Linked DNA regions of Homo sapiens. The protein of the gene in region 2 purifies or fractionates together with the protein of the main gene of each other region. This does not show direct contact. Each region holds a gene or a part of one and is shown on either strand. Other genes may lie near its edges.

Region 1 (3,500 bases), on a different chromosome or scaffold from region 2:
AAGGGACAGAGAATTTTCCAAATCCTAAAATATATTATGCCCTCTTCTTCCTCAGAACCTCTGCATCTGTAATTTCTTCTGCCTAGAAAACTTCAAACCCTGAACTCCACTCTTTGCCTCTCATCCAGGGACCTTACTTTGGTTTATTCCTATCCATTCTTCGATAGTGATCTAAGTCAGCTTAGATATCACTTCCTCTAGGAAGACTTCTGTTTTGTGTGCTCCTTGAGTATTCTGCCCCCCACCCTCCCCCTGCCCCGATAAAATACCAAATCAGACTCTCTGATTACTGTCTATTTACTTCACTGCATTCCCCATGATAAAGTACACTATCTACTTTGCTTATCATGTATTTGTAGCATCTAACCCAGTGCTCAGTAAATATTTGGTAGTAAATAAACGAATGAATGAGAAACAGACAGAGAGGCAGAAGTATGGAAAAAGAGCAGAAAAAGACTCAGACTCAGAGGAGTGTTACTCTAACTAAATAATTTTATTTACTGTCATTTGAGCAGTTGTAACTTACGCCATTACTATGCAAGTCCTTTATGTGCATAAAAATAAAAATTTAAATGCAAAATTCATATGGGAAGTGACAATAAAAGGAGTTTTAAGAGATTTCCCCCTCCTTTAACATAGACTACAAAATAATTTCCCTATAGTGTTACCTTTCAGCATAACATTTGCTTACCTTTGCTATTCGACTAGCTGTTTCTTTGCAAAACTGAGTTGGGCTGTCAAAATGCTGGATTAAGTGAGGCAATAAGCAAAGGATGTTAAGAGGAAAGCCTATCAAAACAAAAAAAAGCAAACAATAACCAATTTTATTGCACATTATTTTAAAAGTTAAAGTTATTTTTTTAGATGGTTCACAGAAACCATTTTCTTTTCATTTCCTGGGATATTCGATCTTCTAATTCTTTTTTGGCTTTTACCAAATAATTTAAGCTACCTAGCGTATAAAAACTATGACTATTTGCAAAAAGCAGAAATTAGTAGATTTCAAAACAAATGATTAGTTTACATTTTACTGCATAAAATGCAAAGTGCTGGTGCAATTATATTAACATCACCTGACAATTGGGAAGGATCCACCAATGTATGTTTGGAGACAGAAATGAGTTTACTGAGGAGGTGCACGGTCATTTCTTGTGTAGATGCTGAGGTAAAACCCTTAAGGAAGAGCTGCTGAAGTCCTGGAAAATTAGTCCATTTCAATTTGCTTTGTACATTTTCAATCTTCTCTCGACTCTCTGATTTATCCAAAGGCAAATGGATAAGCAGTTTGTTGAGAAGCCTGAGAGCCAGGAGGTATTCATATTCATAATCTGATTCTAATAAAGATGCTGCTATCCAAAAAATGGTGGCCATCAAGTTGGTAGGCTCAGTAGTGGACTGCACGTCATACATTCCTTTCTCTCTTAGAGAGGAAAGGCTTCTAGTCCTTGCTAAACTACTGCTATGGTTTATCCGTCCATCCATTATATCCAGTGTGTTACTCCGCCGCCGGTCACCTCGTCGGTCACCAATCAAACTTAATCTCAAAGAGTTACTTCTTGCATTACTGTTATATCCCAAATAACTGCTACTATTAATGGGACTTGTGCTTAGATTGAGTTGTCCAGTGCTTTTCCTGTTAGCTGCATACTTGTTTCCCATTATAGGATCATGATATGAGGTTCTTAAAAAAAAGAAAGAATAGATGAATGCATACCCAGTCACTTCTTTTGCTAAATTAATTTTACTTCTGAAAACACTGAAAAATAGTAACTGGTACCAGAAAAATCATTTTTCAGTATATCTGACTTTGTTGAATCAAATTTCAGTTTTCCCTTCAAATTCAAAGAAAATGTACAACAGTATCTTTTCTCTTGTGGCTAACAGTTTCCTTTGAGTTGAAAGGAGGCTCTACTTGCTGAGAAAATTCTGCTATAGTAATCGCTAACAACGTTCAGCTCTGAGATTTAGGCATACATTATGTCCAAAGCTGACTTCATTTGTCTTGTCCTCAAACTTGATGGTCCTGATGTCCCTATTTCTGTCAATGACACACTCTTTTCAAAAGAACTAAGCTCAAAAATTTTCGATTTCTCCTCCTTCCTCACATCCAATTTTTATTAAGAAAATATTGACTGAATGCTTTTTATGTTTGCCAGCTGTATAGAAAAGGAAGGAATATTAGACAAGTCTTTTGAAAGAGGGGATAGATATGTAAATGGATAAATTTATAGCCTGCTAATTGCTATTATTACAATATGAAAAAATCACTATGAGAACCCAAAGGATGGAATAATTAGCACTACCCTGAAGGAGTTAGAAATGCTTAGCTAGGAAGTGACATTTGGGATGGGACTTGAAGGACTAGTCAATTCTGGGCTTGCAAGGTAGAAAAAGTGGGGAGAGAGGCTGCTGCAGGGAGAAGGAACAATATGTGAAAGGTGGGAGAGCCTTAAGGCTCCCAGACAGCTGGGGGAGAAACAGGATGCTGAATCCTGAATGTGGCAGGAATGAAGTGGTGCATTAGAAAGATCTCTAACCAGCACATTAGAAGAAGAACAGCACTGCTAAAATCAGCACTTGGATTTTTCACAAGTCCTCACTGTCTGCGGCCCATCTCCCCACTGGTAATCCATCTAATTTGGGCAGTATTGTGCTTACTAACAATATTAGAATTTTAAAAGTTATAGCTATATGTAGTTAGCTATTCAAGTTCTCTCTATATTAGGTTGCCTGGTTTAAATTCTTACTGAGAAAGGGCAGAAAGAAGATCATAATGCTTCATGGTTTCAGCCAAAGTATCAATTGCAGATTCCAATGTGAGAAGAAGCTCAATCACAAATCCCTGGGGGGAAAAAGGCAGATTTTAATTAATTATGCTCTGGAATAAAGAAACTGCAATGGACTTCCTAATGGGATTTTAAAATAGAACAAACTCCATGTTATGTTACAAAATGATTAAACTCTTGAGCAACATGATCTTGCTGATTGATGCAAACTCATCCAATCAATGGTGTATAAATTGATTGTAATGGTGCCACAATTTACTCAAAATTGCTCAGGTCAGAAATCTAGGAACCATCCTTGTTTCTTTCACATCTAAACTGAATCCACCAGCAAGTCTTGAAAATATTACTTTTGTTTGTTTGTTTGTATTTGAGACGTAGTCTTGCTCTATTGCCCAGGCTGGAGTGCAGTGGTGCAATCTTGGCTCAATGCAACCTCTGCCTCCCGGATTCAAGTGATTCTCCTGCCTCAGCCTCCCGAGTAGCTGGGACTACAGGCATGCGCCTGCACACCTAGCTAATTTTTGTATTTTTAGTAGAGACAGATTTCGCCATGTTGGCCAGGGTGGTCTCGAACTCTTGATCTCAGGTGATCCACCCGTTTCAGCCTCCCAAAGTGCTGGGATTATAGGTGTGAGCCACAGTGCCTGGCTGAAAATATCACTTTTAAAATACACATTAAAAATCTGACCACTTTCCTCTACCTCCATAACTTCC
Region 2 (3,956 bases):
TCTGCACAGTCACTCCTGGCTTCCTCTACCAGGGGCCCCAGGCTGCTGTGGGGAGCACTTGCTGTCCTCCAGCAACCCACTGCCATCAGGGTGAGGCCAGGGAAATGAGAGGAAGGGCTCTTGCCCTGCCTGTGGCTTTCTCTGACTTGGCTGGAAACAATGGATTTATTTTAAAAAGCAGTTTTAAGAGACACATGTGTTCACATATAATCATTCTTTTGAGGGTATGTCAGTTTTTAAATGGCATGATTCGCCCCAAATAAAATATCCCCCATTTCTCACATCTAGCTGTCTTCTCTGGAAGAATACAGTGTGCTGAGGCATATTGGAAACTGGGCCTCACATTTCTTCACTAGGAATTGAGTTTTCTCAAGGATTAAGCTTTTGTGCTTAAAGAGAAAAGTGCAAAATCTTTGGGAGGAAAAAAGGAAAACAACGACCTGTCAAATTTCTTTTAGCGCCTATGACTAGTGTTAACTGACATGCTCTCAGAGTGCAATAAAAAGCCTGCAAACTGCTGCTAAAAAGATGGTTTGACCTTTTAAAATGGGAACTCCCCCACCCCATATCCATATTAAATAGACGAACCTTGGGAGCTCTAGAGTTTTAGATTAATAAGTGAAATGAGGTTGAATTTCCAGAAAAAGGGTTTCCCTGTAGGCTGCAGACTGGCTAATTAGGGTGTTCTAGACCTACATTGTAACAGCAGGTAGAAGGCAGGCCCTAAACCTTTTAGCTATTGTCGTTGCCACCTGCTCAGAGTCTAGTTCTGAAAGGAGGCGGGTGCGGAGTTATGAAAATTTGGTAAATATAAAAGTCCCGGACGCGACCGCCCGTAGCCTGCGGCCCCTGGCGGTTGAGGAGCCGCGGCGATCCTTGGTCTTCACCGCAGCAGCCAAGCCCGGCGCGCACCAACCGGCGCTGCTGAAAGTTGGAGAGCTCCCAGCTCGCCGATAGAATTCGGCGGTGGGCGCCAGGGGAATCCCTTCCAGTGCCGCAATTAGGAAAGTTTTAAAAAGTAAGGACCCTAGACAGACAAGAGATCCATCCTTTCCTTTAGCATAAGAAACACCCCGCGCCGCGCCAGCCGAACGCTGCTCGCACAAGGCTATCCGCCCTTCTTGGCCGGGACGCACTCGGTGCCTTCCAGCTCCCCACCAGAACTGGTCCAGGGGGCGCGGAAACAGAGAGGCAACTGTGTCCGGCTTGTGGTTCCAGACGGAAACGCCTCCGGGCTCCCTGGCCCGGGGGACAAGGGTTCGAAACTTCAACAGTCGCGAGGGCAAGGACAGAACTACCAACTCCCGCTCGGATGCCCGGGACCTGCTCTTCCAAGCCCGCTCCGGTTTCTCCAAAGGACGCGCGGCACAGCCCATGCGCCCCCGGCACTCCACTCCACTCCTCTATGGTTTCCCCCAAACTCTTCCCGGGGAGCCCCACAAAGCACAGACGGCGCCCTGAAACTCGCCAGGCACTCGCCAGCCATCCCCACCTCCGCCTCTCGAACCCTCCTTGTCGCGTTCTTCCCGCCCCGCACCTTTCTCCTCGCGTTTCTGGGAAGTCAGAAGCAAACCACGAGAAAATGCCTTCGCAAGGAGCCTCCCTACACCCGCCCTGTCACTGAAACAAAAGCGTAGGGAGGAGGGAGGTGGGAGAGGAGGCGGGAGGAAGGTTTAGAAAGACGATGGGGACAGCAGTAGGAAGGAGCTGGGGAGGGGGGTCAAGGTGGCAAGCAGAGCTGGGGGCCCAGAGTCCGCTCCCGTGCCGCGCGGCGAGTCGCTTACATGCCCAGGTCGCTGTAGGTGTTGAAGAACTCCATCTGATTGCACGCCTGAATCCAGCCCACCACCCAGGTCTCGTGGCGGGGGATGGGGGGCATGACCACGCGGGCGGAGGCTTTGAAGTAGGGGGTCTTGTAGCGCAGGACGATGGGCGAGGTCTCCTCGATGCGCGTGGGGCACTGGTCGATGGTGGCGCACACATCGTACACCACGATGTTCTCGCGCCGGATCCGCGCCTTGCAGGTGATGCTTTGGATACAGCCCATCCTGCAGCCCGGTGCCGGCACGGCGCGGCGTGGGGCAGCGCGGGGGCCCGCGCGGGCAGCCGGGGGCGCCCGTCACGCCGGCATGGCGACGCGCCGCTCGCTCCCGGTCAGACTCAGCTCGCACCTAGGAGCGGGGAGCCGCCGGGCATCCTTGGGGAAGCCCCCTCCTCTTGCAGCCGCGCGGGGTCCCCGCTGCCCCGACGTCCGCCCACGCCCGCCCCCTCGCTCCGGCAGGGCGCGCGGAGGGTGCACTCCTAGGAGGCGGCGGGTGCCCTCGCCGGCTCCAGCGCCCGGGCGGAGGGCAGGGAGGGGAGCGGCGCTGCGAGGAATGGTGCCCACCCCGGGCCGGAGCCCCCCGCCCCTCGCCGGAGAGGAGGAGGCGGCAGCGGCGGCGGCATGGAGCCGGGGGAGGGCGGCGGTGGCAGCGCCCGGTCTGTCTGCCTCCGCGGCGGCAGCAGCAGCAGCCGCCGCCGCCGCCGCCGCTGCATGAACCTCTGCACCACGGCTGCCCCCCGCGTGCAGCGCACCCAGCGGCGGGCGAGCGGGCGGCCCAAGAGGCAGGCGGAGGCAGCAGCGGCGGCGGCGGCGACCGGAGCTCCCGCCGGCCCCGCCCCGTAGCCGGACCACACCGACACTCCTCGGCCCGGCTGCCTCGGCCCGGGGGGCGCCAGGAGGCTGTGGCCCGGGGTGGAGAGCCCCAACGGCTGGAGCAGCACAGGACGTGCTCCGCGGAGGAAACTGGCTGTACGCCATGAGTTTTGTCCCTATTCGGCTGCCGTCCGGGTGGGGGGGGGGTAATGTGTAAGGGTGGGGGTGTTTAAAGGGCCGCTAGCGCCGGGGTGGGGCCCCGCACGTGGGGCTGAGGCGGGGCGGGGCCCTGGTAGGTGGTGCCCTGGGGTGGGGGTGGGGGACTAGGGCGGGCCCAAGCGCCACCGGGTGGGTGAGGCCGAGCAGGGCGCGGCGCTGTCCAGAGTCCAGTGGGGAACCCGGTAGCCCAGTAGGGGCTGTAGAGTGAGTGTTTCGGGCAGCAGAAGGGTTAGGGGAACAGCTTTATCAGAGATTGGTCGTTATTCAGAATATAGCTTGTTGGATTAGATTTAGGCTTGAGCCCTTTTAGTATCCTACCTTCAGAAAGGGTGAAGGGCGGGCTCCAGCAGCGTTACTAAATGCAGTGTATTTGCCTCTTTGCCTGACTGGGTTTGTTCTGGAAGCTCTTCTTTCCACCACTGTGTGTAGTGGGGATACCGGAAGAATCCCTCCGTACTCCAGCACTAAGTCTCTCATATGCCAGAGTTTTGGCAGACATTGGGCATTGTGTACAGTATGACCACGGTCATGTGTCTGATACTGCAGTCTAATGTGCCAAACAGGAAGAATATTTAGCAGATGCTTTTACTAGGCATCTTCTTACATTTTTATTTTCAAAGCCAATAGCTTCTAAGTATTTCTTCTGCGATCATTGAACATTTGCTGGATCTGCTGCCCAAGTGTGAAATACTGACTAACAGGCCGCAGGAGGTGCTAGAGTTAGTCTTTAGCTAGGACAGGTGTGACGAGTAATTTAAAAATTGATTGAGATCTAAAAGCACTCTTCATCCTTGTTTTAACTGTTCTGACACCTTGGTTCACTTTATAGTTAACAAAAAAGCAGTTTTTCCCTTTGATGACTCGTCTCTCTCATTTTACCGTGTAGCCACAGACCTCAATCACTGGTCCTTTCATTCAGCAAAGGCTGACTGCCTGCCTGGCAGGAGCCAAACATAGTGCTAGGTACTAGGGATTCAAAGTTGAAAAAGAGCACATGGATCACTGGAGAAAATAAACCTGTTAACAAGTTATTATAGTAAACTGTGACACCTGCTTTAGTGGGGTTGTGTATCCAGTGCCGTGGAAGGCCAGACATGTAAAT

The links. The genes of interacting proteins can lie anywhere in the genome.
Region 1: the proteins of FAM78B (region 2) and FRYL purify together in Homo sapiens (affinity purification with mass spectrometry; one large-scale study listed by BioGRID and IntAct). This does not show direct contact.

The regions. Positions count from the first base shown.
Region 1 is NC_000004.12:48,539,280-48,542,779, forward strand, and holds part of FRYL (protein furry homolog-like), read right to left. Parts: intron 2,843-3,500; coding exon 2,748-2,842; intron 1,682-2,747; coding exon 1,074-1,681; intron 790-1,073; coding exon 692-789; intron 1-691. UniProt on the Homo sapiens protein: Plays a key role in maintaining the integrity of polarized cell extensions during morphogenesis, regulates the actin cytoskeleton and plays a key role in patterning sensory neuron dendritic fields by promoting avoidance between homologous dendrites as well as by limiting dendritic branching.
Region 2 is NC_000001.11:166,164,202-166,168,157, forward strand, and holds the start of FAM78B (protein FAM78B), read right to left. Parts: upstream 2,801-3,956; 5' UTR 2,048-2,800; coding exon 1,785-2,047; exon of another isoform or gene 1,676-1,784; intron 1-1,675.